Linked DNA regions of Homo sapiens. The protein of the gene in region 7 purifies or fractionates together with the protein of the main gene of each other region. This does not show direct contact. Each region holds a gene or a part of one and is shown on either strand. Other genes may lie near its edges.

Evidence for each region.
Region 1: the proteins of UPP1 (region 7) and TBC1D4 purify together in Homo sapiens (affinity purification with mass spectrometry; one large-scale study listed by BioGRID and IntAct). This does not show direct contact.
Region 2: the proteins of UPP1 (region 7) and ZNFX1 purify together in Homo sapiens (affinity purification with mass spectrometry; one large-scale study listed by BioGRID and IntAct). This does not show direct contact.
Region 3: the proteins of UPP1 (region 7) and KCMF1 purify together in Homo sapiens (affinity purification with mass spectrometry; one large-scale study listed by BioGRID and IntAct). This does not show direct contact.
Region 4: the proteins of UPP1 (region 7) and ZNF195 purify together in Homo sapiens (affinity purification with mass spectrometry; one large-scale study listed by BioGRID and IntAct). This does not show direct contact.
Region 5: the proteins of UPP1 (region 7) and SLC31A1 purify together in Homo sapiens (co-immunoprecipitation; one large-scale study listed by IntAct). This does not show direct contact.
Region 6: the proteins of UPP1 (region 7) and OBI1 purify together in Homo sapiens (affinity purification with mass spectrometry; one large-scale study listed by BioGRID and IntAct). This does not show direct contact.

What each region holds. Positions count from the first base shown.
Region 1 is NC_000013.11:75,363,670-75,367,169, forward strand, and holds part of TBC1D4 (TBC1 domain family member 4), read right to left. Parts: intron 1-3,500.
Region 2 is NC_000020.11:49,264,558-49,268,057, forward strand, and holds part of ZNFX1 (NFX1-type zinc finger-containing protein 1), read right to left. Parts: intron 1,710-3,500; coding exon 1,578-1,709; intron 308-1,577; coding exon 159-307; intron 1-158.
Region 3 is NC_000002.12:85,047,661-85,051,160, forward strand, and holds part of KCMF1 (E3 ubiquitin-protein ligase KCMF1), read left to right. Parts: intron 1-1,705; coding exon 1,706-1,988; intron 1,989-3,500. UniProt on the Homo sapiens protein: E3 ubiquitin-protein ligase which accepts ubiquitin from an E2 ubiquitin-conjugating enzyme and then transfers it to targeted substrates, promoting their degradation by the proteasome.
Region 4 is NC_000011.10:3,369,147-3,372,646, forward strand, and holds part of ZNF195 (zinc finger protein 195), read right to left. Parts: intron 2,558-3,500; coding exon 2,431-2,557; intron 1,925-2,430; coding exon 1,829-1,924; intron 1-1,828. UniProt on the Homo sapiens protein: May be involved in transcriptional regulation.
Region 5 is NC_000009.12:113,252,544-113,256,043, reverse strand, and holds part of SLC31A1 (high affinity copper uptake protein 1), read right to left. Parts: intron 1-3,500.
Region 6 is NC_000013.11:78,642,156-78,645,655, forward strand, and holds part of OBI1 (ORC ubiquitin ligase 1), read right to left. Parts: intron 2,843-3,500; coding exon 2,707-2,842; intron 1,398-2,706; exon of another isoform or gene 871-1,397; intron 59-870; coding exon 1-58. UniProt on the Homo sapiens protein: E3 ubiquitin ligase essential for DNA replication origin activation during S phase.
Region 7 is NC_000007.14:48,095,765-48,099,264, reverse strand, and holds part of UPP1 (uridine phosphorylase 1), read right to left. Parts: intron 1-3,500. UniProt on the Homo sapiens protein: Catalyzes the reversible phosphorylytic cleavage of uridine to uracil and ribose-1-phosphate which can then be utilized as carbon and energy sources or in the rescue of pyrimidine bases for nucleotide synthesis.

The DNA.
Region 1 (3,500 bases), on a different chromosome or scaffold from region 7:
ACCCTGGGGACATGTCATCAGGACTTCCTGGGGCTGTGTCACAGGTGCGCATCCTCAACCTTGGCAAAATACACTTTCTAAATTAACTGAGACCTGTCTCAGATTTTCTGGTTCACAACTCTAAAACTGAGAACAATCCAAACGTCCATCAGCAAGTGAAGAGATAAATAAAATGTGGTACATTCTATAAACCAAAAAGTATCTGAGACAGGTCTCAATCAGTTTAAAAGTTTATTTTGCCAAGGTTAAGGGCATGACCATGACACAGCCTCAGGAGGTTCTGAGAACATGTGCCCAAGGTGGTTGGGCTACAGCTTGGTTTTCTACATGTTAGGGAGACATGAGACATCAATCAGTATATGTAAGATGTACATTGGTTCGATCCACAAAGGTGGGAGAACTCAAAGGGGCAGGGTGGGGAGTGTGCATGGTGGGGGCGGTGCAGTTCCAGATCGTAGGTGGATTCAAAGATTTCCTGATTGGCAATTGGTTCCTAGAGTTTATCTCCTACTAAATTCCCTTCTACTCAGCTCCAGCCACAATGGCCTCCTTGCTATTTCTCCAACATACAAGGCACATTCCTCCCACAAGGTCTCTGAGTTCAGAGATGTTAACAGTTTATTGCCACATCCATTTAATATTTTCGGACCACAGATGACCACAGGTGACTGAAACTGTGGATAAGGAGGGGCTGTTGTAATTATTTGGGATATACTGCTAGAACATTCATAGTTTACAAATAACAAGAATTTCCGCTTGCTAGACCAAGTATTTCCTATGAAAGGATAAAATCCACATGCTATAGCTTCAGTGACTCACCCTGAACACTTGCCATGTCTCAGGGACAAAGTCAGGTATCTGTGCTAACATGTGACTAGCAACCTCAACCCTTCATCATTTTCTTACTGCCTTAGTATGTGATTTACCTTACCTGGCAAGGGCCAAAGCTATGGAGAGTGAGCTAGCTGACACTCAACCGTGCAAACCTGCAAAAAATAAAATGATTCTAGTGGGCAAAGCCCTAGGAGAATGATCTCTTCTTTCTCTCTACTTTTCATCTGATTACTAAATATTTTTAATCTGATTTTTAACCCAAAATCTTTTTGTCTGATTTCCACTAAATACTTTTCATCTAATTTTTAACCCAAGTATGCCTCCAAAAGTGTCTCTACAGAGTACGGAATCAGAAATATAGCCTGTAGCACTGATTTTACTGCAGATATTTTATCTTGTTACAAATATTTAAATGATTTACATACAACCTCAGAGTTCCATTCTACAATTGAGATTGCACATAAAGTCAATTCAACCTTAATTGTGTCAAGTCTTTTGAATTTCTCTACCGCCATATCAAGAGTTTTTACATGAAAAACTGATTTGTGGCTGAATTTCTGTAGTCTCCCAGGATCCTTCCCTGTGACTACAGGTAAAAACTCAACACCTAAATGTAATTCTGTAAGTGATCCAATTTATATAAGCAAAGTTTATCATCTTGAATTCTAAACTGAGTACATAATTTAATCTTTAATAATTTAAGATGCTAATATTACAACACAAAACTGGTTCTAGTTACCTTTACTACCTTTTCTCAGGTTATGACTAACCACAACTTGAATGACATGGGTTGCAGAGACTCTGCAAAACTAATCTAACAACAGCTCTGTTTTTTTTTTTTTTGCTTATCCTCATGTGAAACACAGAGTATAAACACTAGCATTATACAGCCCCTGACTACTCACTTAGGCCACACCAGAAGGGGCACACTGCTCATATAAGCACAGTAAAATATCCATAGCGGGGAAATGAGTGATCAGAGAATCATGAAAATCTTGTATTGAAGCATTTACTTAAGGGATTCATCAGAAACAATGCAAGAGAAATAAAATTTCTATCAAGTACTTGTACATACATACAATATTTTGGAATCATAGGATTCTCCTGTAGCATAGTGTTAACTGACATATATTTATACATACATTTACAAATATTGTTGAACGAATTTGAATCCTTCTTATATGTGTTGTATCTTTTCAATATCTCTTTCTCCTGTACCATCGTACCATAAGCTCTTAAGTGAAAGACTGAGTTGGGGGGATTTTGTTGCTTACTAGAATTCCTCCCTGTGGCCACTAGGAAAATGGTCTGGGCTCAGAAGAACTTGAATGAATGCTGACAGCAAACAGAGTCATATATATAGGAGTGAAAAACTACCTAGAACTCTGATATAAATTCTTCAGGACTGAGACAGTTTAGTAAATTCCCGTTGGTGACTCAAGAGATCTGTCACACCCAAAAATAGAAAGCAGTGGCTTCTCACTCTGCTCACCATTCACCCAAACTAGGAAGTGACGGTATGTTTCCAGAATGACTCTAAATGTTATAGAGCACCTCAAGCTACACACCCTAGCTACATATTGTAGCTACAAATAATTCCGCTGCTCAGAATCTGCCTACAACCCACAGAGCCTAATGACGATTTACACACACCAATTTAAGGCAAGATTTCTACTCAGTGGCAGCATTTAATCTATTAACACAAAACAATGATACTGAAAGAGGCTCAACCAAACTAGGGACTGACAGGTTTATATTCTATCCCCAATATTTTGCTCAAGACCTCTGGGAATAGTTGTTGCACCTCTGCCAGATAACTTCCTCAAGAGCAAAGTGAATGGGGGAACTTGATAGATGGTTGATAAGGTCTCATCGAGATCCACATTCTGTGAGTTAATTTTTGGATTAATGCCAATATAAAGGCAGGATAATGTACAATCAAGAGAGGGAAAAATCACCTTTATGATTAAACCTGAAGTAGTGTGCAAGTTGTTAAAATGATCCATTTCCATTAACACACAGGAATCAATTCAACAGAAATAAGGGTCTCATTATATTTAGAAAAAGCACAGTGCCACCTTTAGCTAGTATTTTGTTGTTACACCTTCAGTGACCTCACTAAAACAATTTAGAATCAAGTACCAAGACTCAGACATTAAAGCAATTCCTCACTCTAGACAAAAAAAAAAAAATATTGCTTCTAGATTCCTTGATGTCATGCTGTTCTTTCTCATTAATTGGTTATCATAGTTACTTAACATACTTCAAAAAACCCATTAACATTTTATAAACTACATTTTACCTGATTTCAAAATAAAACAAATTCTACAACTACCAAACACTGATGTTCAAAGACCTGAACAAACACAGGAGAAAATCTGGAGAGTGAAAAAGCACTAAGGAAAGATACCTTTGATCAGGAAGCCAGCTGGAAACTGGAGGTGGTCACGAAGAGCAATGATTTTGCCAAACTGGTGTAGTCCTCAGTATTAGCTCTAAGTTCTCTCTTTCTAAATAAGCTGGCGGTATTTTCATTGTATTTATTAAAGTCCACGTTATCACTATGCAGCCAATTATAAAACTTCCCAGGAGTAACCATTATTGCTTCAAAAGTTAAGTATTTCCTGACTCTGCAATCAGGAAATACACAGATTGTTTGGGACTAA
Region 2 (3,500 bases), on a different chromosome or scaffold from region 7:
ACCAAGGGATTGGCAGAATAGAATGCTGAAAGGAACCTGGGTCCTCCAGAGCTTTGAGGAGCCTCCAAATCTACCCTGGGCTGCCTACCCAGAAAGCCACTGCTATCTTGTTTAGGTCCCTCTTGAACTACCCCAGATATTTCAGAGCTGGGACTTACACTCATGTAGGCCCTTCGGAGGTGCATGGGGAGGTTGCGGCGGAATTCCCGCTTGTTCCTCAGCTCCCTTAGGGTGAACTGCTTCAGGATTTCACTGTTGCTCCTTCCACCCACCCGCACAATGCTGGTCTTCTGACAATTGTAGATGCCTGTGGAACAAAGTGGAGCATGGCAGGGTTGAGAGGAGCTTATGCTAGGTTCTCTCAGGTGAGAGCTGTGTGTATTTGGGATCTAGTCTGGTCCCTTAGAGAATAAACTTGTGCTTAAAGGAAATTTACCCCATTAATGAGTGAGAAGGTCCCCGAGAAGATGTGACCTGCAGAGCAGTAAAGTGTAGCACTTAAAGAGTACAGGTTCTGGAATCAGACAACTAGGGATCCAACTCTTAGCTCTACCACTTATTGCTGTGTAACCTGGGGCAAGTGACTTGAGTCTCAGTTTCTCTGTCTGTGATTTAGAGATGGCAATATCTCCCATATAGGGCTACAGTCTGGATAAATGAAAGAAAATCTTTAAAGCTCCTAGCTAGGGCCCAGCACAAAGCAAGCACCCAGGATATGTTACATATTTTTCACTCTGCAGATTTACTGATTGCTCATATGTTTTAGGCATGTGCCAAGTTCTGAAGATATAGCAGTAGAAACATAGGCCCAGTTTCTGATTTGTTATCATTTCTTTGTCTCTGGCAGGAAGTTACTCATTAAATAATTAATACGGCAGCAATAAATGTAGTGAGTACTGGTAGCAGGGGACATTACCTAGTCTGGGTGGGGTAGGGATCTATTTTTAAGAATCTAATATTTAAACTCAGACTCTAAGAATAAAGATTTATCTAGGTGAAAGGGAGGTATAGAAGAATAAAAATAAAGGAAAAGCATATATTTATTCATCCATTAATGTTATTTAGTATTTTTTGAGTGCCTAATATGTGCCAGGATATGTGAATACAGCAAGAAAAGGACCAATCCTCATCTAGGGTAGCGATACATAAAATAGATTATAAAAAAATAAAAAATGCAAAAGAGACTTCACTTTGGGGCTATAGAAAAAGTCCACCTGAGAAGAGAGATTTAAAGTGGGACCAGAAGAATGAGTAGGGCCAGGTTGAGTAGGGCCAGGTTGAATAAGCTCAAGATGGAGAGGGAAAAAACTATTCCAGGCCAGAGGATGGCATGGGCCAATGGAGGACGTAGAGGCTTTCAAGGAACTGAAGATAACCAGTGTTGCTGGAGTTAGGGAGAACAAGGTTAAGAAGTAGGAGCTGTGGTTCACAGTCCAGCTGGGACAGATCACAAACGGCCATGTAAGTAATGATAAGGACTGTTGACTTTGTTTGAAGAGCAATAGAAAGCTACTGAAGTTGCTGATGGTTCAATCATCAACATCTTGATAGAGAACAAATTTGCCTATAAGTATTACCTTCCAGAAACTGGTCCAAAGCATGATTAGTATAACACACAACCAAGATGGGGAACTTCTGGAGGCTAATTTGCCAAACAGACTCGTTGGTTAGGAGGGCCTGAACAATTTTTAGACCCACATAGGTTTTGCCTAGAAAATAAGGAAAAAGGAATTTAACAATTTAGACATTTTCTAAATAAAGTAATTACTCAGAGCAAAATCTTTTTTTAAATTTAATATAATACATTAAGATAGTTTAAAATCTAAGAAGCGTACATTGTATATTGTGAAAAGTCCCTCTTGCACTCTGTCACCCAGTTCTCTGGGTGGAAGCAACCAATGTTACCAGTTTCTTTTGTAACTTTACAGAGACAGTATATCCACGCATATACAAACAATACAAATGTGTATTCTTTTTCTAGACTTCCCCTTTTCTCCTTAAAATATGAATAGTAACAGACAATTTTTACCATTCTACATCTTGATTTTTTTCACTTAATGTATCTTGAAGGTCATTCTCTATCAATACATAGGAGAATCCCATCCCCCCCACCCCCCCCTTTCCTTTTTACAGCTGTTAAGGTATTTTTTAGCCAGTTTTCTATTGATGCTGTATATATTGTTTCCAATCTTGTGGCAAATTAGAAATACTTTTTATATACATGGTAGATTTGCTTTTGTGATGGGAGGGGAAAACTTGTAGAAATCAACATTGGAATAAGAGTTATAGGCTCATTAGTAAATGGCCATTAATTAATTAATTAGGCTAAAAACTGCTAAATTCTCTCTTTTTGTTTGAGATGGAGTTTCGCTCTTGTTGCCCAGGCTGGAATGCAATGGTGTGATCTTGGCTCACCGCAACCTCTGCCTCCCGGGTTCAAGTGATTCTCCTGCCTCAGCCTCCCAAGTAGCTGGGACCACAGGCGCATGCCACCATGCCCAGCTAATTTTTGTATTTTTAGTATAGATGGGGTTTCACCATGTTGGGCAGGATGGTCTTGATCTCTTGACCCTTGTGATCTGTCCGCCTTGGCCTCCCAAAGTGCTGGGATTACAGGCGTGAGCCACCATGCCTGGCCTGCTAAATTCTTACATTGTGTCAGGCTGGTAAGGTAGACACTGTCCTCAAAAATCTCAAAGTTGAGGGAGGGAGTGATATAAGATAATCAAAGATTTCACTACAGCAGGATAAGTAACAATTTCTTCCTTCTTTTTTAAGGCCCTATGTTGTCCAGACTGGAGTGCAGGGGCTATGTGTACTGCAGCCTGAACACCTGTTTTCAAGGGATCCTCCCATCTCAGCCTCCCAAGTACTTGGTACTACAGGTACTCGTCAAGACGTCCAGCTTTGTTACATAAAGTTTTTTTTTTTTTTTTTTAAATCATGAGTTGCCATTACTTCATTGGTGTTTTTTAAAGACTTCTTCCTGTTTGGGGTTTTGTTTTCTTTTGGTACTTCCTTTCGGAGAGTAATTTAGCAGTAGCTATTTTAACTGTTAATGTAAATTCCCACTTCTAATAATAGTTATGACCCCAGAGTAGAATTAGAGAGTGGCACCTGGGGAGAAAGGTATGGGAAGGTATAGTTCCACGACAAGTACAATGTGGCAGATAGGAGCCAGGATTCTACAGCTAGACTGCCTGAATTCAATTCCTAAACTTGTCACTTAACATTTGTGTGAGCTTCAGTACATACTTCCCACCTCTTAAGAGGTTATTTAACCCTTCTTTGCCTTAGCTTTCTTCATCCGTATAACAGTTTTGTTTTTTTTTTTGAGGTGGAGTCTTGCTCTGTTGCCCAGGCTAGAGTGCAGTGGAGCGATCTCAGCTCACTGCAAGCTCCGCCTCCTGGGTTCACGCCATTCTCCTGCCTCAGCCTCCCGAGTAGCTGGGACTACAGGCGCCTGCCACCATGCCCGGCTAATTTTTTTATATTTTTTA
Region 3 (3,500 bases), on a different chromosome or scaffold from region 7:
CCTAGGAAGTTGGTAGCAGAACACAGGGTCAAAATAAAATACAAGAAATCACTGTAGCCTGATAATCTGCAAGACACACCAAGCAGACAAGTGGTAAGACAGTGGGAAGTGTGCACACATTTAAAGCAACAATTCTGAAATGTGTCCATGTGGTGAAGTGTGCACCTACCTGGAAGCCATGAGCACCCTGCAGAACACCTGAAACATTGATAAGTGTAAATCTGTAATAGAAACTGAGAACATCAGAGCTAAATGACAACTTAGGAACACAAAGGAGGAGACAGCAGACACTGGGGGAGGGTAGCAAGAGAGAGAGGAGCAGAAAGATAACTGTTGGGTACTGGGCTTAATTGGGTCCTGGGTGATGTAATAATATGTATGACAAACCCTCGTGGCAGGTGTTTAACTGTGTAACGGACCTTCACATGTACCCCCAAACCTAAAATAAAAATTTAAAAAAGAAAAACAACCTAAGAACAATTTTATACCTATCATGTTATTTAAAAGTTAGATATACCATATAAAATTTTAATTCCAAATGTGCTTTGGACATTTGTGTGTGCAACAACAAAAACAAGCCTAATAAACTGAGTTTGGGGGATTTAAAAAATATTTCTTCATCCAAAGGGAATATTTACCTGCTATTTTGGTGGCAGGCACTAAAAATTAAAGTAGTTTCTGGGAGCAAAATTCAAAATTGAGAAATTTTCTTCATTTGATTTTTTTTCTGTCAGTGAAAATTAGTTTATTTTAGTGATAGACTGTATATTCCATGAAAGAGTGGTATAAGAGTGCTATAAAAAGCCTGGGATAAAGCAACAGTGAGCAAGAAAACAAACTGTTAATGAGTTTTAATGATAAAGAGTTTTTGCTGGCCTGAAAGTGTCTGCAAGGCAGTCATCGATTCCCTATAAGCGAGGTGGACCCTCCACTTGGAAGAAGGCATTTCACTGTACCTTACTTAGATGAGGATGCGGGGACAAAAGTTTACACCTCTCTTAATGAGTACAGCCTTATGGACACAAGACAGTCTGGATCATAACAGGCCACTAAGTAGGCTGTACAGTCAGATGCAGCAGGTTCTCAGGAGCCAGTCAGCCTTGCTGAGCACTGGTAGTGGTATCTACTGCAGTGGTACTCTGAAACAGCAGTACCAGAAGGTACTAGAGGGAGAAAGCAGAGGCAGAGAGTGTGCAAGGGCCACCATCAGAAATGATCCAGGCCTCTTGGACTGAATCCTAATAATTCATTCAGTCATTCAGTAAATGTTTGAATTCCTGCTATATCAGGCCCTGTTCTGATAGCTGGGAATATAGTCAACAGTAGACCTCATCCCTGCTTCCATGGAACACATATTGAGAGAGCTTATATTATAATTGGGCCCACAGATAAACCACTTCATTAAATACTAAGAGAAAGCTTCACTAAATTAGTCTATTATGCAAATAATTTTAAAGACAATTTAAGTTTTACTTCAAACATAATTCAGTCTGGGTTAATATTCGTATGCATTTGCATTCTCTGTCCACAGTAACTCCTGCCTTCAGGAGGCATTCTAGAAGGATTCAGCTCTTAAACTGTGTGCTGTGGTGGTTACCTACCTGTTCACAATGCTTTTGATGTTGTTCCAGTAAAAGAGTGATCTGTAGCGTTTTGTTTTCCTCAGTATTAAGCAGACATTAATTGTCTTCATTTCCATTGGCAGAGCTTTTATCTCAGTTATCAGGAGTGAGACGTTCTGCAGGAGGACAGCTTAATTCCTCTGGCCCTTCCGCTTCTCAGTTACAACAACTGCAGATGCAGCTGCAGCTAGAACGGCAGCATGCCCAGGCAGCACGGCAACAACTGGAGACCGCACGCAACGCAACCCGGCGTACTAACACAAGCAGTGTCACCACTACAATCACACAATCCACAGCAACAACCAACATAGCTAATACAGAAAGCAGTCAGCAGACTCTACAGAATTCCCAGTTTCTTTTAACAAGGTAGCTCATTTGTTAATAGAATTTTGTTTGGGAAGTAATATTTTATTGCCACTACAGTCTGGAATTATCTTTTCTCTTTTGTGCATTATATTTCTTTAAAATTTTGTGTTTGATTAAAACTCACAGATCTCTGATTAAAACGCATATTCAGTATTTCCCCAAGAATGTGAAACATAGTAATTATTTTAGATAAATTAAGAATACTGGGCCAGACCCAGTGGCTCACACCTGTAATCCCAGCACCTCACACCTGTAATCCCAGCACTTTGGGAGGCCAAGGCAAGCAGATCGCCAGAGCCCAGGAGTTCCAAACCACCCTGGGTAACATGATGAAATCTTATCTCTACAAAAATGAGCCAGGTGTGATGGTGCGCACCTGTAGTCCCCGCTACTCAGGAGGCTGAGGTGGGAGGATCGCTTGAGCCCTGGAGACAGAGGTTGCAGTAGCCAAGATTGCACCATGCACTCCAGCCTGGGTGACAAGAGTGAGACCCTGTCTCTAAAATAAAATAACTGGTCTTGTTCTCAAGGTATATATCATCATATAATATGAATTGTTTTGCCATAGTACCCATAAAACTTAAACACTATATCATTATATATATATGGTTCATATTAGGTGTATTTATCATAATTAACGTTGCTTGTTATTGCCAGTTTTAATCTGCTTTGAAATATTAAAAGTATAAGAAGGATTTCATAATACAGTGGCAGTTTTCTCCTGTGAATTTCTAAAAAAGCTAGATTTAAATTTTTATGGTTGGCACACAAAAGTAACTTAAAAAAATGGCTTCCTATGGTATAAATAATATTTAGTAAAACAGTAAACTACTCTACTAGATGGAGTTCTTGTTTGCTTCTGAAACTGTTAGCAACTGCATGTATTTGTCTGCCAAAACTTCACAGGCATTTTATGTGACTTTTAGGAATATAAAGAATTCTTAAAAGAGCAATGATGAGTGGAGACTTAGCCTCAACAGATAATGAACCTGGACTAATTGGGCTTTTAAGGGAGCAGAGAGGAACATAAAGGAAGAACTGTAAAATGAAGAATAAAGTTTGTGTAATACATGATTATTTCCAAAATGCAGTGTGTATGACAATTCATTGGGATGTTAGAGGAAAATATTATAATTTCTACTTATGTTTCTTTTATCTCATACTCTGTTAATACAGTGGTGCATGTGTATAGTTATAAATAACATATTGTGGGTGCAGAATAAAAAATGCTTGAAAATCCCTGGGCTAGAGCCCCAGCTTTGCCAATTACAAGTTTTGGACCTCAGGCAAGTCATTTCACTCCTCCAAACCTCAATTTTATCATCAGTATCCCAGAAGTTTTGCCTTTAGAGAGATAATTATTTTGAGGATTAAATGGAATACTGGTATGTGTATGGTCTGGCTCACTATCTGGCCTATAGTAAAGGTCCAATTAATGGTACTCGTTATCAACATTTGTTATGAAACCAAGAAAAACATTTTAAATGGGTAATTTACCTTTGAATTATCTCT
Region 4 (3,500 bases), on a different chromosome or scaffold from region 7:
AGTAACATATTAGGGCTGTGCAAAAGTAATTGTGGTTTTTGCCTTCTAAATAGTAAGAAATACTCTTACTTTTGCGCCAATCTACTAACAATGTTGATAAGGATGTAAAGAAAAAACAATTCTGAACGCTCAGAGTTCTCAACTGGTAGAGTCATTATGAAAACCAGGGTGGGGGGGCGTTATTTAAAAGTTAGAAAAAGATAAACCTACCCTGCAACGCAGCAATCACACTTCTGTGTATATAATAACTGAAGGGAATAAAAGCAGCATCTTGAAGAATTATCTGCTCCCTCATGTTCACTGCAGCATTATTCACAATTGTCAAGATATAAAGACAAGCTAAACGTTTGCGGATGCTGAATGGATAAAGAAAATGTGATATAAATAGACAATAGAATATTACTCAGCCATAAAAAAGGAATGAAATCCTGTCATTCAACCACGTGGATGACCCTGAAGGACATCCTGCTAAATAAACTCAGCCAGGCCCCAAAGACAGAGACTGCACGTTCCCCCTCAGACGTGGAATCTGTCGTGGCTGAACTCACAGGAGCAGAGGACAATGGCAGTTGCCAGGGCCTGGAGTTGGGGAAAATGAGCTGTTGTTCAAAAGGTACAAACTTTCAGTTGTAAGATGAGTAAGTTTGGGGAATCTAATGAGTAGCTTCACGAATACTATTAATAATCTTTTGTATGCTTAAAGTTTGCCAACGGTAGACATTAACTGTTCTCACTACAAGAAAAGGTAATTACGTGAAGTGATAGATTTGTTCCTTGAAGTGATTGCACTAATTATTTCACAACGTATACACATATCAAATTATTACATTGTACACAATATATACACAATTTTTATTTCTAAAATAATCTGTTACACATATGCCCACATAGACACACTGTATATATGTGTGTGTATATATACATGAATGGATAAAGAAAATATGATTTAAATAGACAACAGAATATTACTCCAGCATAAAAAAGAATGAAATCCTATCATTTCAAAAGGATATGTTGATATATTATATATACACACATATATGATATATACACACACATATATACACACATATATACACACATATATACATATGCACACATACATACATATGAATGACAGAGTCCTGATAAGCCTCATACTAAAAAAGAAGAAATTATAAAATGATAATATTATAACTATTACAGTTGGGAGTTAGGGAATATAAAGTTTAAATGACCAACCTCAGCTCATACTAAAAAAAATAAAATAAAATGTTGAAGTAAAATAACATTAGATTATCTCATATTTGGGCAGATGCCTAGTGTTCGGAGAAAACTGCTGAGTATACATTTCTGTAGACTCCCATTTGAAACCTCTGTAGGATACGAAATCATAAAGCAGAAAGCATACAACATCTGTTTACGGGACTTCTGGGATTTCTGAACCAATCACCATCACCACGCCTCTCGCACACTTCAGACATGATGCAAAGGAAATCAAAAAACATTTAACAGAGTTCCTCAAAAACAGGCAGGTACAGGCATGTTCCCAAAAGCAGTGGCGGAGCACGCCATGAGACCACACAGGCCCTTACTCGTCAGGAGGAGGACTCTGATTTTTACTGTAACCTTTATAAAGGAAGATCACTAAACAGGAAGCAGAGTCTATACAAAATTTGAGAGAATGAGACAGAAGACGCTCCTAGGGTACAGCAAGAGAAAGACACCCAGGCTCTCAGAAACCATCTCCACTAGGGCAGAGCTTCTCAAACCACATTTTAAGGTCTGGCTTCCTCCTCGACCTCTGGACCTCTCACCTGGGTTACCTGCTTCGTTCATTCCCACCCACCTGGATGTCCGTCTGCTGCCTCCTGTCTCTTCACATTCCAGGGCTCTTTTCGTTGCTCCAGGCAGGTGATCAGGCCTGGCTTACAGACAGTGAGACCTGTTTTATTAGAAAAAAGTGACATTACTCTTGCTGAAATTCTCCAATTATCAACCTTGTACTGTGCTTAGTAGAGTGAACATTATATAAGATTCTAGAAAATTAATCCCAAAATTATGCTTCCTGACATCACCTTTAGAATATTCAGTAAGTATTTTAAATCTGTGGGTTCTTAGTTTCACCACTCAGTACTGCTGACATAAAAAATTGGTGGTGGAAATTTGACTTTAAGTTGTGGGCAACAATATTTCATGCCACTGAATTTCTGGAATTGTCACTAGAGTGAAAGATACAGATCAGCTGAAAAAAAAGGAAGGTTTATGTCAAGATGAACCACATTTTGAAGATTTTTTTTTTTTTTACATCAACTATTCCCCATGTTTTTCTTAAAAGCAGGGATCTGAAACTCATTCATGCAACGCAGAAACTCCCAAAAAACATTCCGCAGAGGAACGAAAGGAACTCTTTAGGGCATAGGAGGAACTACGTATTGAAGTTATCCTCACCAACGGAGAACAAGTTTCTGTAGTTCTCCAACATCACATCCCTGTACAAATTCTGCTGAGCGAGGTCCAGGCATTTCCACTCCTCCAGGGAGAATTCTATGGCCACATCCCTGAACGTCAACAGAGTCTGAAGAAGAAACAACAACAATAACAAATACTTGATTCGAGGTGAAATGAGCGAGTGAAGAGAACTGGTTCTGACTTACACAAGTGACTGAAATTATACAATAAGGTAATTCTTAGCAGAAGAATACTCTCTAACTCTGAGGAAAGAGAATTGCCTGAGAGCCACATAAGCAGTGTATATACAATACTTTTCTGGTTGATAACAAGTATAACATTAAGGGCATCAACAAAGGCATGTCCATTTTTGAGTGCTACATTTACGTCACATGAATAAGCTGTGTATATTTCGCAGGCAGAAAAGTCATGGTGAGTTAGAAGCTGCCTCTCCAATTTTCATGTGTCCAATAAACTAGTGTGCAGATTTTGCTTCAGGAAATCGGAGGTCAAGGCTGAGTTTCCGAATTTCTAACGCGCTCACCAGTGATGCCAGTCCTTTGGGCCCAAGGACAATATTTTGTCAAAAATCCTGTAAGTGGCAAGCTTGGGTTTATCCCAGTTTTTCTAAACCATAAAGAGAGATGAGATTCTTCATCTTCTAAAGCAAGGCATATGCAAAAAGAATCTAAGAAGCAAAACCTTTCAGATTAAATGTGATTATTTATGCACATTAATTAGTAAATCTCCTCAAGGTACTTAAAAGAGAAAAAAATAAACTCCACAATGGAAAATCTGTCAGGGAGCTCTTTAAACAACTGAATAAAACTAATATCAACTGTAATAGGACAGATTTTTATCACGTGCCAATGCACAGAGAAGGACATATTACTGGTGTGATATTGGCCAAAAGGTCAATTATAATCTGAATCAAATCATACCGAAACCTTAGTGTTATGCAAAGTTCAAGAGACAAATAAATATCTCCCAGGTTCTGACAAATATCTCCCAGGTTCTGACAAATATTTCCCAGGTCCTGACAAATATCTCCCAGGTTCTGACAAATAAAT
Region 5 (3,500 bases), on a different chromosome or scaffold from region 7:
AGATGGAATCTTGCTATGTTGCCCAGGCTGGAATGCAATGGCTATTCACAGGCATGATCCCACTACTGATCAGTACAGGAGTTTTGACCTGCTCCATTTCTGATCTAGGCTGGTTCACCAGGCAACCTGGTGGTTCCCTGCTCCTGGGCTTGTTTCTTGGTAAATACTTTGTCTATATGGAATGCATCTAATAAATGAATGCTCTCCTAGCATCTTTACTCAGAATTATTTTTCATAATCTACAGATGGAGAGAGAAAGAACTCGTGCTAATAGGGATCACTTTTGGAGACTGTAGCAGAAAGGGTTTACACGTAGGGCTACAGATGCCTAACCCTTCCTTATTCTGCAGAATTGTTCCTTTTTTTTTGAGACAGGGTCTTGCTCCATCACCCAGGCTGGAGTGCAACTCACCACAGCCTCAACCTCAGCCTCCTGAGTAGGTGGAATCACAGGCCTGCACCACTACCACGCTCAGCTAATTTTTTGTTTTATCGTACAGATGAGGTCTCGTGTTGCCCAGGCAGGTCTCGAACTCCTGAGCTCAAGCAATCCTCTTGCCTTGGCCTCCCAAAGTGTTGGGATTACAGGTGTAAGCCACTGTGCCCCACCAGTATAGTTCCTTTAATAGGTATGCTTAATATATGTTCAAACTTAAATATTAGATAAGGAGAAGGAAAGCAGCTTCTTTGGGTTGCAGGAAACAGGCAATCTGTAATAAGATACAAATGAATGCCATTAATGAAATTTAACTGCTTTAAGGCTTTCTAATCATAAATGTCAGCAGATAAAAAGCAAGGACTTCAGATAATTCACCTAATTGGGATGGCCTGTGCCTAATCAGGATATTTGGATTACATTTTCACATACAGGACAACCAGCCTTCAGCTAATTTAAATTTGAAGAAAGGTCTACTATGGCCCTAGGCACGCAGTGTGCTCAGACTTCAGATACAATTTCAATCCTACCAGGACATTAGAGTGAAGAACATGAAAAACAAGGTATAAATTGGATACTCTATATTAAATTAAGTCTAGACAACTGCAAATTCAGCCTTGTATCTTTACTACCACATCACTGTATTGCTGCAAAAGTCCATCTGGGACATAAACCAAGGAGCAATAATTCCTTTTATTTATTTATTTTTGAGACAGAGTTTTGCATGGTTGCCCAGGCTGGAGTGCAGTGGTGTGATCTCGGCTCACTGCAACCTCTGCCTCCTGGATTCAAGTGACTCTCATGCCTCAGCTTGCCGAGTAGCTGGGATTACAGGTGCATGCTACCACACCTGGCTAATTTTTAAATTTTTAGTAGAGATGGGGTTTCACCATGTTGGCCATGCTGGTCTCAAACTCCTGAGCTCAAGTGATCTGTCCAACTCGGCCTCCCAAAGTACTGGGATTATAGGCTTGAGCTACCGTGCCCGGCCCAGGAACAATAACTCCTATAGCTAGAGTTGGAGTGGGAGAATGGGAAGCTGGTGTGTGTGGAGGGGGAGGTGTTGGTGGATTCTCTTTATGTGTCCCTCAAGTCCAGTCTGTGGAAGAAAAAGTGGTTTTAAAAATTCCAAGTAGGTATTCATGTTCATGAAACCAAGTATGCTTTTCATTATTCATTCACTCAATATTTATCAAGCTCCTATTATATACCAAACTCTGAGCTAGGTGCTAATAATTCAACAATGAATAAGACAAGGTTCCTGATAGGGAGAGAAACAATAAATATAATTTCATGCTGTGAAGGAAATAAGCTGAGAAATAAGACACAATTACCAAGAGGTAAAGAATAAATTGGCCAGGCGCGGTGGCTCATGCCTGTTATCCCAGCACTTTGGGAGGCTGAGGCAGGCAGATCACTTGAGGCCAGGAGTTCGAGACCAGCCTGGCCAACATGATGAAACCCCATCTCTACTAAAACAAAAAAATTAGCCAGGTGTGGTGGCATGCACCTGTAATCCCAGTTACTCGGGTGGCTGAGGCATGAGAATCACTTGAACCTGGGAGGTGGAGGTTTCAGTGAGTCAAGGTTGGACTACCGCACTCCAGCCTAGGTGACAGGAGACTATCTCAAAAAAAAAAAAAAAAAAAGACTGTGGGTAGGAAATTTATATAGATTCAGGGAGCCATCTATTTATTTTCTCCTTGTTAACTCCTACCCCATAGTTCTATGACAGCTGGCTTAAGAAATAGGTTCTTATTTCTAGTGAAGGATAAGGCAAAGCATCAGGTAGGCATAATCAAAGATCCACTTTCATGCCAGACACTACATTATTTTATAATTATAGAGCTCAACAGTGAAACCCCGTCTTTACTAAAAATACAAAAATTAGCTGGGCTTGGTGGCACGCGCCTGTAATCCCAGCTACTCGGGAGGCTGAGGCAGAGAATTGCTCAAACCTGGGAGGCGGAGGTTGTGGTGAGCAGAGATCATGCCACTGCACTCCAGCCTGGTCAGCAGAGCAAGACTCCATTTCAAAAAAAAAAAAAAAAAAAATTACAGAGCTCGACAATCTGGTATTATTGATACCATTACCATAAAGAGATTACATCAGAGGTATAAAAAGATATAAAACAGAGTCTTTGTCTACAATGTTTTTAGAGTAAACACTAAAAAATACAATACACAATAAAATAAAGACCATGCTCAAAGTGTCAGTGATGGGGCAAATGGCAGGTGGGCAGCTGTTTTCAGATAAAGAGGTAATTATGGTAGGATGGAGAGATCACTGGCATCTGAGTGATCATAAATTATGATATTGAACCAAACAAATGCAATAAGAATGAAAAGACTTGGCCAGGCGCGGTGGCTCACGCTTGTAATCCGAGCACTTTGGGAGGCCGAGGCAGGCGGATCACGAGGTTAGGAGATCAAGACCATCCTGGCTAACATGGGTGAAACCCCGTCTCTACTAAAAACACAAAAAAATTAGCCGGGCATGGTGGCGGGTGCCTGTAGTCCCAGCTACTCTGGAGGCTGAGGTAGGAGAATGGCGTGAACCCGGGAGGCGGAGCTTGCAGTAAAGCGAGACCGCGCCACTGCACTCCAGCTTGGGCTACAGAGCAAGACTCCGTCTCAAAAAAAAAAAAAAAAAGAAAAAAAGAAAAGAAAAGACTTTCGCTAGCCAGGAAGACTACTGACACATCCTCATAAAGAGCTAGAGGCAGAAGACACAAATACTGTTCTCTTCCAATGAGAGTCTGAAAAATGATTATAGCATAAGAAAACCACAAAGGATTTACTTCATTCCATATTATCAATATGAATCCTGGTCAGGAGGAGGGAATGAATATTTGCAAGAGTGCCTTCTTAAGACCAAAGGAAATAAAGAAATGAACATCACATGGAGTCTTTCCTCAAGGAGCTTTAAGGCTAAAAGCTAGAAAGGGAAACTGAACAGTCATAATTTTCATTTTGAGATATAAGATAACATGTAGAGGACTGTTAAAAAAGCAAGACTAGGCTGGGTGCGGTGGCTCACCCTGTAATCCCAGCACTTTGGGAG
Region 6 (3,500 bases), on a different chromosome or scaffold from region 7:
TTCCGAAGATGCTTCCTGACCGTATGGCTTAGCATAGGTTCACTTTCACTTGTTCCTCCTGTAGGGAAAAAAAAAAAAATCCTAATTTTTCATTCTGATTCGGGAAGAATGAAAATGATCCTTTTTCATATTGTTTTATATAGCTTCCCAGCTTCACATCTACCCTTCCCCTTACATACACACTTGGGGCTTACATCTAGGCCTTTTCTCTACCCTAATCTTGAGGAAAAAAAAATATATCAAATAACACCATAAGAAATACCTTCAGTAACACATCATATTGTATTTACATATCTACATATCTTATCACAGCAAACTCAGTGGAGGAAAGGGCTGTAATTATCACATTTGGACTACTTCAAATTCTGAAAACTAGACTATATTTAAATAATAAAACCAATTATTACATTTACATTTAACCAAGAGATTATATAAAAATGTATTACTGGCTGGGTGCAGTGGCTCACGCCTGTAATCCCAGCACTTTGGGAGGCCGAGGCGGGCGGATCACGAGGCCAGGAGATAGAGACCATCCTGGCTACAGTGAAACCCTGTCTCTACTAAAAATGCAAACAAACAAAATTAGCCGGGCGTGGTGGCTGGCGCCTGTAGTCCCAGCTACTCAGGAGGCTAAGGCAGGAGAATGGCATGAACCCGGGAGGCGGAGCTTGCAGTGAGCCGAGATTGCGCCACTGCACTCCAGCCTGGGCGACAAAGCGAGACTCCGTCTCAAAAAAAAAAAAAGTATTACTGCTATATACCTATGTATATAGATTAATGTGTCTTTTCACGGATTCTAACAGGCTAGTTACAATGGACTGTAAGTCATGGCATTAACTCTATGTCATGACTTGTTACAAATGCACTCACAATGAATTCTTCCTGAGAGCTCTTCACTGATGCTCTGGTTACCTTCTTTGTATTTTTTAGCATTATAATAATAGCAAAGGTATTTTACAGGTGTTCTTTTTCAGGATGTTCTATCCAAATGCAAAAATGGATGAACTATTTTCCTTGAGAGAATTTATGAAATATCACTTAGGTATGAATGAATAAAGGTAGGATATGGGATGAGAAGAAAAGCTGGGGGAAAATATTCAAATCATCAAAGCTCATATTCTGCAAGAAAAGACTTGACTCCTTGGTGAAATTCAGCAGGTAAAAAAAAACAGATAGAGGTTAACCCCGTAGCATGCAACACAGCAGAGAACCAGTCCTCTACCAGACTTCACCCAGGTACCAAGAGCCAACTCTGATTGCGCCTTCAGATCTCTTATTTCCTAAGTCCTACTAGTTCTTCTTTTGCTCTGTAGCATATATATTCCTTTCTATTTCCTTTGTAAAAATCTTGGCTGGGCACGGTGGCTCACGCCTGTAATTCCCAGCACTTTGGGAGGCCAAGGCGGGCAGATCACCTGAGGTCGGGAGTTCGAGACCAGCCTGACCAACATGGAGAAACCCCGTCTCTAATAAAAATACAAAATTAGCCGGGCGTGGTGATGCATGCATATAATCCCAGCTACTTAGGAGGCTGAGGGAGGAGAATCGCTTGAACCCAGGAGGCAGAGGTTGCGGTGAGCCGAGAACGCGCCACTGCACTCCAGCCTGGGTAACAAGAGCGAAACTCTGTCTCAAAAAAAAAAAATCTTATTTAAGTCCATTTTCCCTAACTTGGGACTATTACAATGACTTCTTAAGTTTTCTGAAAAATGTTTTCTATACTTGGCTAATTGTAGATTCACTTTCAATTTTTCCTATAGCAAAAACAAGTAGAAATCATTTTAATTTTTGCAACCTAAAATAAATAACTTATATGAGTAGAATAAAAACCAAACTCTAAAAAGGCTCTTTAGAAGTTCTCCTTTTCAAGGATCCTCTAGTTCAAGCTTTACTCCTCCCCCACCCCACCAATATTAATGTGACATAGAATTTGTTTTCACCCTTAATCCAAACTTACATTTTCTATCACCTAGGCAAAAGCCTCCTACCAGACCTACTCACATCCTGTCTACTCCTATAGTCCAACCTATGTATTACCACAAGTAATATTTGTAAAGCACATTTTGGATCATACCACTCCCTTGCTCAAAACCATCATGCCCAATTCACCCTTCTTCTTAGTCCTAGAGCAAGTCCCTGATTTAGCTGTCATTCAAGGTTCTCTGCACTAAAGTCTCAATTTACCTTTTGTCTTATCTCAGTAGTCGGACCCAAAGTAGACTACTGATCATTTCTAAAAACATGCTCTGGGTTTTCCTGTATCTAAACTTTTTAGTTCATGCTATTCTCCCTGCAGGAAATGCCCTCCTTAATTTTCACCGTTGAAATGTTATCCATCCTTAAATTTAAATGTCCAGCTTAAAGGCCACCTACTTTATGAAGCCCTTCTCGGTGTTCTTAGCTGAAGTTTCTTGCCTGAACTCTCTGGGCTTTTTTGGGGCCCTTAGCACTTGCTGCTTTTCTTTTGGTTCAGTTGCTATGAAAATGTAAGTTCCGTGAGGCTCTCAGGGTTATTCCTCTTAGCACCTCTCAGTGCCTTGTGCCCCAGTTGCTCCACATATACATTACACAAATTACTCAACCACTCAGTATTATGTTGGCCAAATAGCATCACTGAAAATAGCCTATTTCAGTCTTCCTCGAAATATAAATTATTTGGAGATTGTTTCAAACCTATTCCTATGCATATATAAAACAGGCCCTTACCTATAATTTCTTTGCAAGGATTTTCAGGAGTGATGGGGACTCTGCAAGCTGGACACTGGCTATTATTCTTCAACCACAAATCAATACAAATCGAACAAAATACATGGTTGTTGATGCATATGACAGGCTGACGTACCTTTGAAAAAAGAAATCACTTTTAGTACAGGACAACGGTCATAATTAGAAGATCAAATGGTTTAGTTTACAGCAAACTGCTTCTCTAGATTATAGCAGAGTAGGAGTTTAAGAAGGGATATCTAGCGCTTTTAAAAACACTGCTTCTGTTGGTCACTTTTCTTTTTACACATGTTTAACAGAGATACTAGATGAGATACTGGATCATGGAGACTGAAGCTTTTGACATATAAAATGCTTTATTTTGTACCTAAACCACAGAATTCATGCCAAAAAGAAAATGCTTTTTGTTCCACTAAGGCTGGGACAATTTTGCTCAAACTCTTCTATTTTAGCATTATAGAACAGCAGGATTAGGTTTTTGAAAATATCATTTAGCACAATCATCCATCTGATGCCCGAATCCTTTTCTCAATTCATTCCACTGTTACAGAATAACAGCAACTATTAAATATTGTATTGATACTTTACTAGAAATTCCCCAAAACCAAACAGTAATGAAAGCTAAAACAACCCAAAAGGCATGAGCTTCACTCTCAAGTAGTTTATAATCTAAACAGCAAACAATGCAGACAGAATTACTGAGATACACCAAATACACAAATCTTTGACTCCAGGCTCCATTTAAACAAGCACAAATAATAATACCTTACATTTAT
Region 7 (3,500 bases):
AGAAGGAAAAACAACCTCTAATCCTACCTCCCAGAGATAACCTTTCCAATCTGCATACCTTCAATTTGTTTTTGTTTTTGTTACACTAGCTACCACTTCTCCAGCACGATATCCAATAGGAGTGACAAGATAAGACATCTGTTTATCTGCTAGAAAATGTGCTCGTGGCACATGCTGGTCTAGAGCAAGCATCAGCAAACTTTTCTTCATAAAAGGCCAGATAATAAATACATGTGGTTTTGCAGGCTGCATGATTTCTGCTACTTCTCAAGTCCACCGTAGACATGTGAAAGCAACTACAGATAGCACACAAATGAGTGAGTGTGTCTGTGTTCCAATAAAACCTTCCTTACAAAACAAATGCCCCAGGTCTAGATGAGTCCCTCAAGCCTGTCGAAGTCCCTTAGAGCCAGCCTCAAACGTAGCTCCTTCAACAATGTATGCCTTCTGAGTCCTAGAGATGGGTGGGCTCCCTTACAGGAAACAGAGGCAGACATGGGATGCTGATGTCAGAGCAATTGGGGACTTCTTTTTCTTCCTTCTGAGTCTGACTTTCTGCCCTGAACCCCGTGGTCATGTCTCCTCCTCATTCTAACTCATGAGAAAAGAAAAAGACACAAGAGAGGCAAGGTCTCAGCTGCCACGGATTTGGAAATAACTGTTAAATAAGGGATGCACCCCCCTCACAGACATTGTCCATTCTCTCCCCACACGATGCTTGTTACACCTTATCTATATTTTAACACTGGTATACATAATTAATGTAATAACTTTACCTCCAGAACAAAAATTTCTGGAGGCCATGACCACGTCTTATATATCTCTGAATCCCACGTAACACACCACAGACAAGAAAAACAAGGTTGAGATGGTCCCATCCTATTTTATCTATCATTTTATCAAATCCCTATTTCTATCTGGCACTCATCAACAGCAGACACCCAGGCTCCAAACACACAGATGGCCTATACCTGACTGCTTCCTCCTTTCATGACTGTCAAATGTTCCTTCCCATCAATTCCCCTAGAGTGGGGCCCAGGTGAGCTCACACCTGAACATTTCAGAAAGGCTGATATAGAAAACATAAGTACAAAGGGTTATACACAGAGACAGGGAGATCTTTGTATAAGGGGACAGGGGGCTAGGTGACTGTCTCCTGTATGGGCAGGCAGGGACTCTGCTGACTGCACTAGTGAATCTGCTGAAAACCCTGCTCAGGAAGGCACAGCAGCCTGCCTGAAGCACAGAGCCACACCCGCCTGCCCCTAAGCCCACCTCTTCCTGACAAGCTATTGGGGGGATCTCCAGAATCAGGGTTCATTCTACTCTGGGATGTGGGGCAAGGCCATTTTTCAAGCGACCAAATCCAGAATCACGTGTGGTAAGGACCATCCTTGAACTTTTCTCAGAAAACCTTTTTGATCTCTAGGCCAATCTGAAATTCTGACGATCTGCACACCCCACAGTATTTTAGGATCCTTTAGTGACAACTATTTTTCATGTAAGTAACATTTCCATTCTCCTCCTTCAGGATGTTAGAAATACACAGAGTACAACATAGAAGGGCTAAGAGTCATGCTTCAAAATAACAAAACAGGATGTGATTAAGACAACTTTGTCACATATTTCAAAATAAAATACTTGTCTTTTCTCCTTGATTCTGAGAAATGAAGAAGAAGGAAGTAGGGTGTAACCGTGAAGACAGGCAATTATTTTAAAACATGAAAATTTGGCCGGGTACAGTGGCTCACTCCTGTAATCCCAGTACTTTAGGAGGCCAACGCAGGTGGATCACTTGAGCCCAGGAATTCGAGACTAGCCAGGGCAACATGGTGAAACCCTGACTCTACAGAAAATGTAAAAATTAGCCAGGCATGGTGGCATGCACCTATAGTCCCACCTCCCTGGGAGGCTGATGTGGGAGGATCACCTGAGCCCAGGAGGTTGAGGCTGCAGTGAGCCCTGATCACACCACTGCACTCCAGCCTAGGTAACAGAGTAAGACTGTCTAAAAATAAAAAATAAAGTAAAATTTAAAAAGTAAATTTAACATGTACCATAATGAACCAGTAGATGCCCCAATTTATTTTTTGAAGGATTTTAAAATAACAAGTCAGAGACATACTACCTGGAAAAAAATATTTCTCTAGTCTACACATAATTTCAAGTGACTTTATTCTGCTTTATTCTACCACTTTATTCATCTAGCAAATATTCATTGAGCATCTACCATGTAAAAGAAATATATGAAATGAAATGAAAACTGTCTGGGCGCGGTGGCTCATGCCTGTAATCCCAGCAATTTGGGAGGCTGAGGCGGGCAGATCACTTGAGCCCAGGAGTTTGAGATCAGCTTGGACAACACAGTGAAACCCTGTCTCTGTGAAAAATACAAAAATTAGCTGGGTGTGGTGGTGCATGCCTGTAGTCCCAGCTACTCAGGAGGCTGAAGTGAGAGGATCACTTGAGCCCAGGAGGCAGAGGTTGCAGTGAGCTGAGATCACACCTCGGCACTCCAGCCTAGGTAAAAGGGCGAAACCCTGTCTCAATAAAAGACAAAAAGGAAAAAAAAGAAAGCAATGAAAACTGGCTTCTGATTCCAGGAGTTTATCAGCAGGGAAGAGAAAGCAGTATCAACCTTTATATAAACTTGCCCAAATAGCTTAGGACCAGCACATGTGGAGACAAGAAGAAAATGAGATGGGTGAGACACAGGGGCCTGAGGTACTGGGGAAGGGGAAGTGGGAGGGCTCCAGAAAATGCTGGCTGCATCTCGCAACAGCCAAGCATCCTGTGCTGGGTGTACTGAACATAAAGATGAGTAAGATCCAGTTCCACTCATGGAAGGCTTTCGACTTGGGGTAGAAATGAAGTTATTAATAGCTAGCACATATCAATTCATTTAATACTCTCAGTATAAACTAAGTACCATCAGTAACCCCATTCAAAGTCCAAGGTCACATCCTTCCTAAGAGGCTGTACTCCTGAGCTCTACACCTGACTGCCTTTCAGCAAGTGGAACATGATTAGCAGATAGCTGAGGATAAAACAAGGGAGGGTAAAATAATTACTGAAGAGAGGGAAGGGGAGGAAACCCTCACTGAGTTGCTTGGCACTTGGTGTGCCGGCCCTGTTTTCTCCAGCCTTCATTTCTACCACTCCCCTCCACCCCCACCAGCCTCCTACTAGGCCTCAACCTCAAGCCATGGCAGGAGGAGGAAGGAGGGGAGCTCCAGAAACTGGGGACAAGGCATTTTTGGCTGTCAATGACTGAAAATACCAGGAATACTATTAGTTCAATTAAAAAATAATCACTGAGGCAGGCCACAGTGGCTCACGCCCGTAATCCCAGCACTTTGGGAGACTGAGGCGGGTGGATCACTTGAGGTCAGGAGTTTGAGACCAGCCTGGCCAACATGGTGAAACCCCATCTCTACTAAAAATACAAAATTAGCCAAGTGTGCTGGCTTGCACCTGTAATCCCAGCTACCTGGGAGGCC